Linked DNA regions of Homo sapiens: region 2 is linked to region 1. Evidence: fine-mapped expression QTL. A gene starts in region 1. The other region holds a variant in brackets. All regions are shown on one strand. Distances are from middle to middle. Region 1 holds the start of SRXN1 (sulfiredoxin 1). Region 2 has its middle 21 kb from the start of TCF15.

Evidence for each region. PIP is the estimated chance that this variant, and not a neighbour inherited with it, causes the effect.
Region 2: its variant is fine-mapped to the expression of SRXN1 in whole blood (TOPMed, PIP 0.98).

What each region holds. Positions count from the first base shown.
Region 1 is chr20:651,835-654,743 of GRCh38, reverse strand. It overlaps SRXN1 (sulfiredoxin 1), which reads left to right and starts at 1,544. Exons shown (of 2, transcript NM_080725.3): 1 at 1,544-1,768. The coding sequence starts at 1,559. It overlaps LOC107985423 (a long non-coding RNA gene), which reads right to left and starts at 1,791. Exons shown (of 2, transcript XR_001754452.2): 1 at 1,270-1,791; 2 at 1-955. RefSeq lists a silencer at 1,107-1,666.
Region 2 is chr20:630,150-633,058 of GRCh38, reverse strand. No RefSeq gene overlaps it. Among named protein-coding and RNA genes, the nearest start is that of TCF15, 21 kb to the right of the region's middle. The variant C/T (reference allele first, on the strand shown) is at 1,178.

The sequences.
Region 1 (2,909 bases):
TGATACCAGGAAATGAGGCCTCCCTGGGTACACCATGATGATAGAATCAGGCCAGAGCTCCACTTTTCCACTCTAGAAACTGTTATCCTGCCATTCTTACTTCCTGTAATGAGGAAGATGTTTTAGAAGGGATAACTTCCCTCTTGATGAAATTCTCTAATTCTGAATAATTCTGGGGCTGAGGTGTGGGTGTCAGTTCTACTTCTTGAAATAAAGTATCATTTAGGTGCGCACGGGAATTATGTTTCGAAAGGGAAAGGCTGGAGTCTTGGTGTCAGTGTTCTAAGGTTTTGTGAGAGACTAAGAACCCAAAATAAATGATCTTCAACAGCAAAATGGATGTTATGCAATTCACAGAGCACTATGAGCACTCTCTCAATTCACACAACTTTGAGTGATGGGCAGCATGACTTCATTTTACAGACGGGGTTCAGAAAGTGTCAGCAACTGGTGGAAGGCAAAGTAGAAACTCCTGGCTCCCTCCTTCGTCTCCAGTTTTCTCCAGCTGGCAGGGTAAGTATGCATTTCTCCATGTTCGTGCCATTCAGGTTGAGAAGGAAGACAAGCAAACCAGACATGCTTGTCTTCGACCGAGTCTGGGATCGTCCACCTTCCTGCTTGGAGTTGGTGGTTAAGTGGCCCCACAGTTTGGACTCGTGTGACCTGACTTTCATTTCAGCTGACCTTGAACAGCGGGTCTATAACTGCACCTACTTCCAGTAGTGTTGTAATGACACAAACAGACAGTGTGGAACTTGAAGGCAGGGCCCACCCATTGTCAGCGCGACTCCTGAGGGCTCCGTGTGACAGTCACTGTTGCTGAACCAAGGCAGCCAACGGTGGGGTAGAAGGCGGACTCTGGAGCCAGACCGTCTGGATTTGAACGCGGATTCGGCCACTTACTAGTTCCGTGATCTTGGGTACATCACTTAAACCTGTGTCTCAGTCTCCTCTTCTGTAAAATGGGAATAACAGTCATACCTTCCTTGCAGGGTTGTTTTGAGGTTCAGATACGTTAATACACGTGCAAAATGTTCGGAACGACTCCAGACACAGCCGGCGCCAGACTGGAAGTGGAACCGCTGGTGGGGATCATAACCTCGCTGGCTAGGAACCCCAGCAGCGGGGCAGCAGCGCACCGCGGGCTTTGCCGACTCACCCTGGCTGGGCAGGTCCGCCGCGCTCTCCCCCGCCCCCGCCCCCGCGGCCTAAGTCGGCCCGGCCGGTGCGTCACCCGCGCCCCTCCCGCCCCGCGACCTGCAAACTCACCCTGAGTCAGCCCGCCCGGGCGTTTCCACTCCCCGGACGCCGCGCGGCGCAGGGGAGGCGAGAGGCGCCCCCCGGTGGAGAGCCTGAGCCCCGCGCGAGTCTGGCGGCACCTGGCGAGCGGAGCCGGAGTCGGGCTGGGGACCGCGGGGTCGAGGCCGGACCGCGGCGGGGTCGGGGGAGAAACGCGCGCTGCCCTGGCACGGGCCCCCCCCCCCGGCCGCGCGGAATGGTATGGCCCGGCCGGAGTTAAGGCCGGGGGGAGGCGGCGAGTCCCGCGGCGGCGGCGACGATGGGGCTGCGTGCAGGAGGAACGCTGGGCAGGGCCGGCGCGGGTCGGGGGGCGCCCGAGGGGCCCGGGCCGAGCGGCGGCGCGCAGGGCGGCAGCATCCACTCGGGCCGCATCGCCGCGGTGCACAACGTGCCGCTGAGCGTGCTCATCCGGCCGCTGCCGTCCGTGTTGGACCCCGCCAAGGTGCAGAGCCTCGTGGACACGATCCGGGTGAGGCCTCGGGGAGTCCAGCCAACCGGAGGGAGGGCTTCGGAGGAGGGAGGTTGCCGGAGGAGGGAGGTCGCTGCGATGGACGCGAGACGGACTGGTTCCGGGCCCAGCCGGAGCTCAGCCTCTGCTGTGTGACCTTGAGCAAGTAGCTGGGCCTCTCTGGGCCTCTGTTTCCTCACTTGAGCAAGGAGGGAATTGGGCGAGATAATTAAAGTAGTGATGATAACGCTTATAACGCTAGTGCTTGCAGTGGTCCAGGAACTGCAGGAAGTCCCTCAGTTTCCTATGCCAACCCTAGGAGGTAGATAGTGGCTCTTTTGCAGACGAGAACTGAGGCAGGGAAGATTTCAGCGGCTTGACTAAGATCAGGCGCTTAAAAAGTGACACGGCTGGAATTCACACCCAGGCAGCCTGGGCCCCACTGCCCAGCACATGGCCACCGCACTACCCGGAGATAAGCCGTGGGCTCTCATGGCTGTGACAGTCAGTGACAGTGGGACTAGGTGTGTCATATCTGCTGGGAGGCCCTTGTCTGAATGGGAAGTGGGAGAGGTCAAGGGTCAGCTCCACCACTGAGGAAGGGTGTTAAGAATACCGGAGTGATTCTGGCAGGAACTTGGGGGCCCCGCAAGAACAGGTGTCAGGTTAGGCCTACATAACGTTGTGTCCCCTTCCCCCGACCCTTGGAAGGTGAGCACATGAGATCCCTAAGCCCCACCCAGCACCTCTACAGCCACCCCCGATAACTTTCAGTCCTAGTATTTACACTAGTGTCCTCACTGCCTGGAGCCACTTCCCCAGACAACCACAGGGCCTGCTCCCCTGCCTGGTTCAGCTCTCTGCCTCCTTGATCACCCTTGGTCAGAGTCACTGGCCTCTCTAGCTCTCCCCTTAGCCCGAGATGTTTTTCAGGATACCACTTATGTCCACCAGAAATTATATTATACATCTATTTGTGTTGCATTTTATTTTCTGTCTTCCTGACCTCACGTGCACTCCACAAGGGCGAGGACCTCGTCCCATCTTATCTGTTGCCACAATAGTAGCACGGCGCCTGGCTGAGATGGGAAGGGATCTGCCATGCATGCCCTGTCCCACCACTGGGCTTTTTCTCCCGTTGAGAACCTCTTCTATCTCTGCC
Region 2 (2,909 bases), 22 kb after region 1:
ATAACTCGAGAAGAAGATGGATGAGTGGATTCGCTTGTCTATGCATAGAACATTTCTGGAAGGACACAAGAAACAGTGAGACTAGGGATGGCTTGGGGAGAGGATCGGGGTGGCTGGGGACGGAGTGGGTGGGAGATTTGCCTTACACTCTTTTATACTGTTGGAATATTGGTCCATGTTTATGTATTCCTTTATCAAATAATAATTGCATCTATTGCAAAATAGATCATCCTGCTAGGAAATATATGGGCAGGAAATATAAAGAGAAACAGAATATTTACATAGTATCAGTGTATCTTCCTATAAGGTATTCGTTAATTACAAAGAGAAAAATGGTAACTTTACAGTAGGGAAAACTGGCAGACACCACCTTCACCAAATGATCACAGTGAACATTGCTAATAGTGGGGCAAGTCGGCAGGCATCATGGGCCCCCTGATGGGACGCACTGTGAAGGACAAAGCGTCACTGATGCGGTGTTCTTGCCACAAGTGCCTGATCTGAATCCAAGCATAAAGAAATAACACAAAAATCCAAACAGAGGGACAATCTGCAAAACAACTGGTCTAAACTTTTCAAATAATGTTGATCATAAAAGTCAAAGAAACTGTTCCAGGCTGGGCACAGTGGCTTACACCTGTAATCCCAGCACTTTGAGAGGCCGAGGCAGATGGATCACCTGAGATCAGGAGTTCGAGACCAGCCTGGCCAACATGGTGAAACCCTGTCTCTACTAAAAATACAAAAAATTAGCCAGGCATAGTGGCGAGCGCCTGTAATCCTAGCTACTCAGGAGGCTGAGGCAGGAGAATCGCTTGAACCCAGAGGCGGAGGTTGCAGTGAGCCAAGATGGTGCCATTGCACTCCAGCCTGGGCAATAAGAGTGAAACTCCATCTTCAAAAACCAAAACAAAACAAAACAAAAAACTGGCCTAAACTCTTCAAATAATGTCAGCCATAAAAGCCAAAGAAACTGTTCCACGCTGGGTACAGTGGCTCACGCCTGTAATCCCAGCACTTCGGGAGGCCGAGGCAGGTGGATCACTTGAGGCCAGGAATTCGAGACCAACCTGGTCAACGTGGTAAAACTAAAAAAATACAAAAATTAGCTGAACGTGGTGGCAGGCGCCTGTAATTCCTGCTACTCGGGAGACTGAGGCAGGAGAATCACTTCAAC[C/T]TGGGAGACAGAGGTTGCAGTGAGCCGAGGTGGCACCACTGCACTCCAGCCTGGGCAACAGAGCAAGACTCTGTCTCAAAAAAAAGAAACTGCTCCAGATAAGACTAAAAAGAAGACTAAAGAGACATAAACATTAAATACAACATGTGTCCTGGACTGGTTACTGAGTGGGTGGGGTGGGGGGGTAGAAATCTTTTTGTTTATTTGCTACAAAGGACATTAGTAGAACTGAAAAAATTTCAATAGGTCTATAAGATAGACAATAGCATTGTATCAGTGTCCTGATTTTTCTATCTGTCCTGCGATTTTGTAAGAGAATATTCTTGTTTTTAGAAATATACATGGGATAATTAACTTAGAGGTAAAGAGTCAACATGTCTGCAACTTATTTCCAACAATTCAGGCACTGGACAAAAATATATGCTGAGAGAGAATGAAAAAGCAAAGAATGCAAAATGTTAACATTTAAGGAATCTGGGTGATGGTATGTAGGAATTCTTTGTATTATTATTGCAAACTTTCTGTAAGTCTGAAATTATTTCAAATAAAAATTCAGGTATAAATAGAGTCATTGGCATAGCTGACATGCCAATGCCGTGATGTTCATGTGTTGTGTTAAGTGCTTGGCACATATGATCAAATTTCATCCTTGTAACTAGCCCATGAGGAAGGTGTAGCTATTTCTCTTCTTTATGCAGATGAGAATCTTGGGGCACAAGGTGGTTAAACAACTTGCTCAAGGTCACACAGCTGGAACAGATGATGCCCAGGGACTCTTCTTCAGCATCATCGGATAGCTCTGGGAACAAAGGGGCCTAGGAATCAGAATTCCATGATATGAATCCAGGGCTGTGAATTGTTTTCTCAGCACTGGGATTGTGCTGTTATTGGAATGCAGCCTTGATGTCATTATTCACCCTTCCGTCAAATATTCACTCATTGATCTGTCCAACCACATGTACTGAGCACCCACTGTCAGCCAGACACTGGAGCTGTAAAGGTGAGTGACTGGGCACGAGCTTATAGAGCACCCACCATTTACCAGGCTCTGGGCTCAGCATGGCGGTTAAAGAGATGAGCCAGACCCATCCCTGTCCTCCAGGAGCTCACTGGCTAGCAGGTGAGCCAACCAGAATAGAGACATGTAAAGGGCTGTGGGAACCCCAAGAAGTGAAAGGCTGGAAAAGGTTCCATTGAGGAGAGGGCCTTTAGGCCAGGTTTTGATGGATGTGTAGGAGTTCCTAAAATGGGGAAAGGAGCACTCTTTTTTTTTTTTTTTTTTTTTTTTTGTGACGGAGTCTCTAGCTCTGTTGCCCAGGCTGGAGTGTAGCGACATGATCTCAGCTCATTGCAACCTCTGCCTCCCAGGTTCAAGCGATCCTCCCACCTCAGCCGCCCAAGTAGTTGGGATTACAAGCACCTGCCACCACGCCTGGCTAACTTTTGTGTTTTTAGTAGAGACGGGGTTTCACCATGTTGGCCAGGCTGGTCTCGAACTCCTGACCTCAGGTGATTGTCCCACCTCGGCCTCCCAAAGTGCTGGGATTATAGGCATGAGCCACTGCACCTGGCAAAAAGGGCACCCTTAATGGAAGAAACAGCACAAGCAAAGGCTCAAAGTAGGAACAAGTAGGTTTCTGGGATCAGGTGTGGCCTGGAGTGACTGGAGCACCGTGAGAAACGTAGGGAAATGAGATTAGAGAAGCAGCAAGCCCAGCTAGGGAAGGACCTT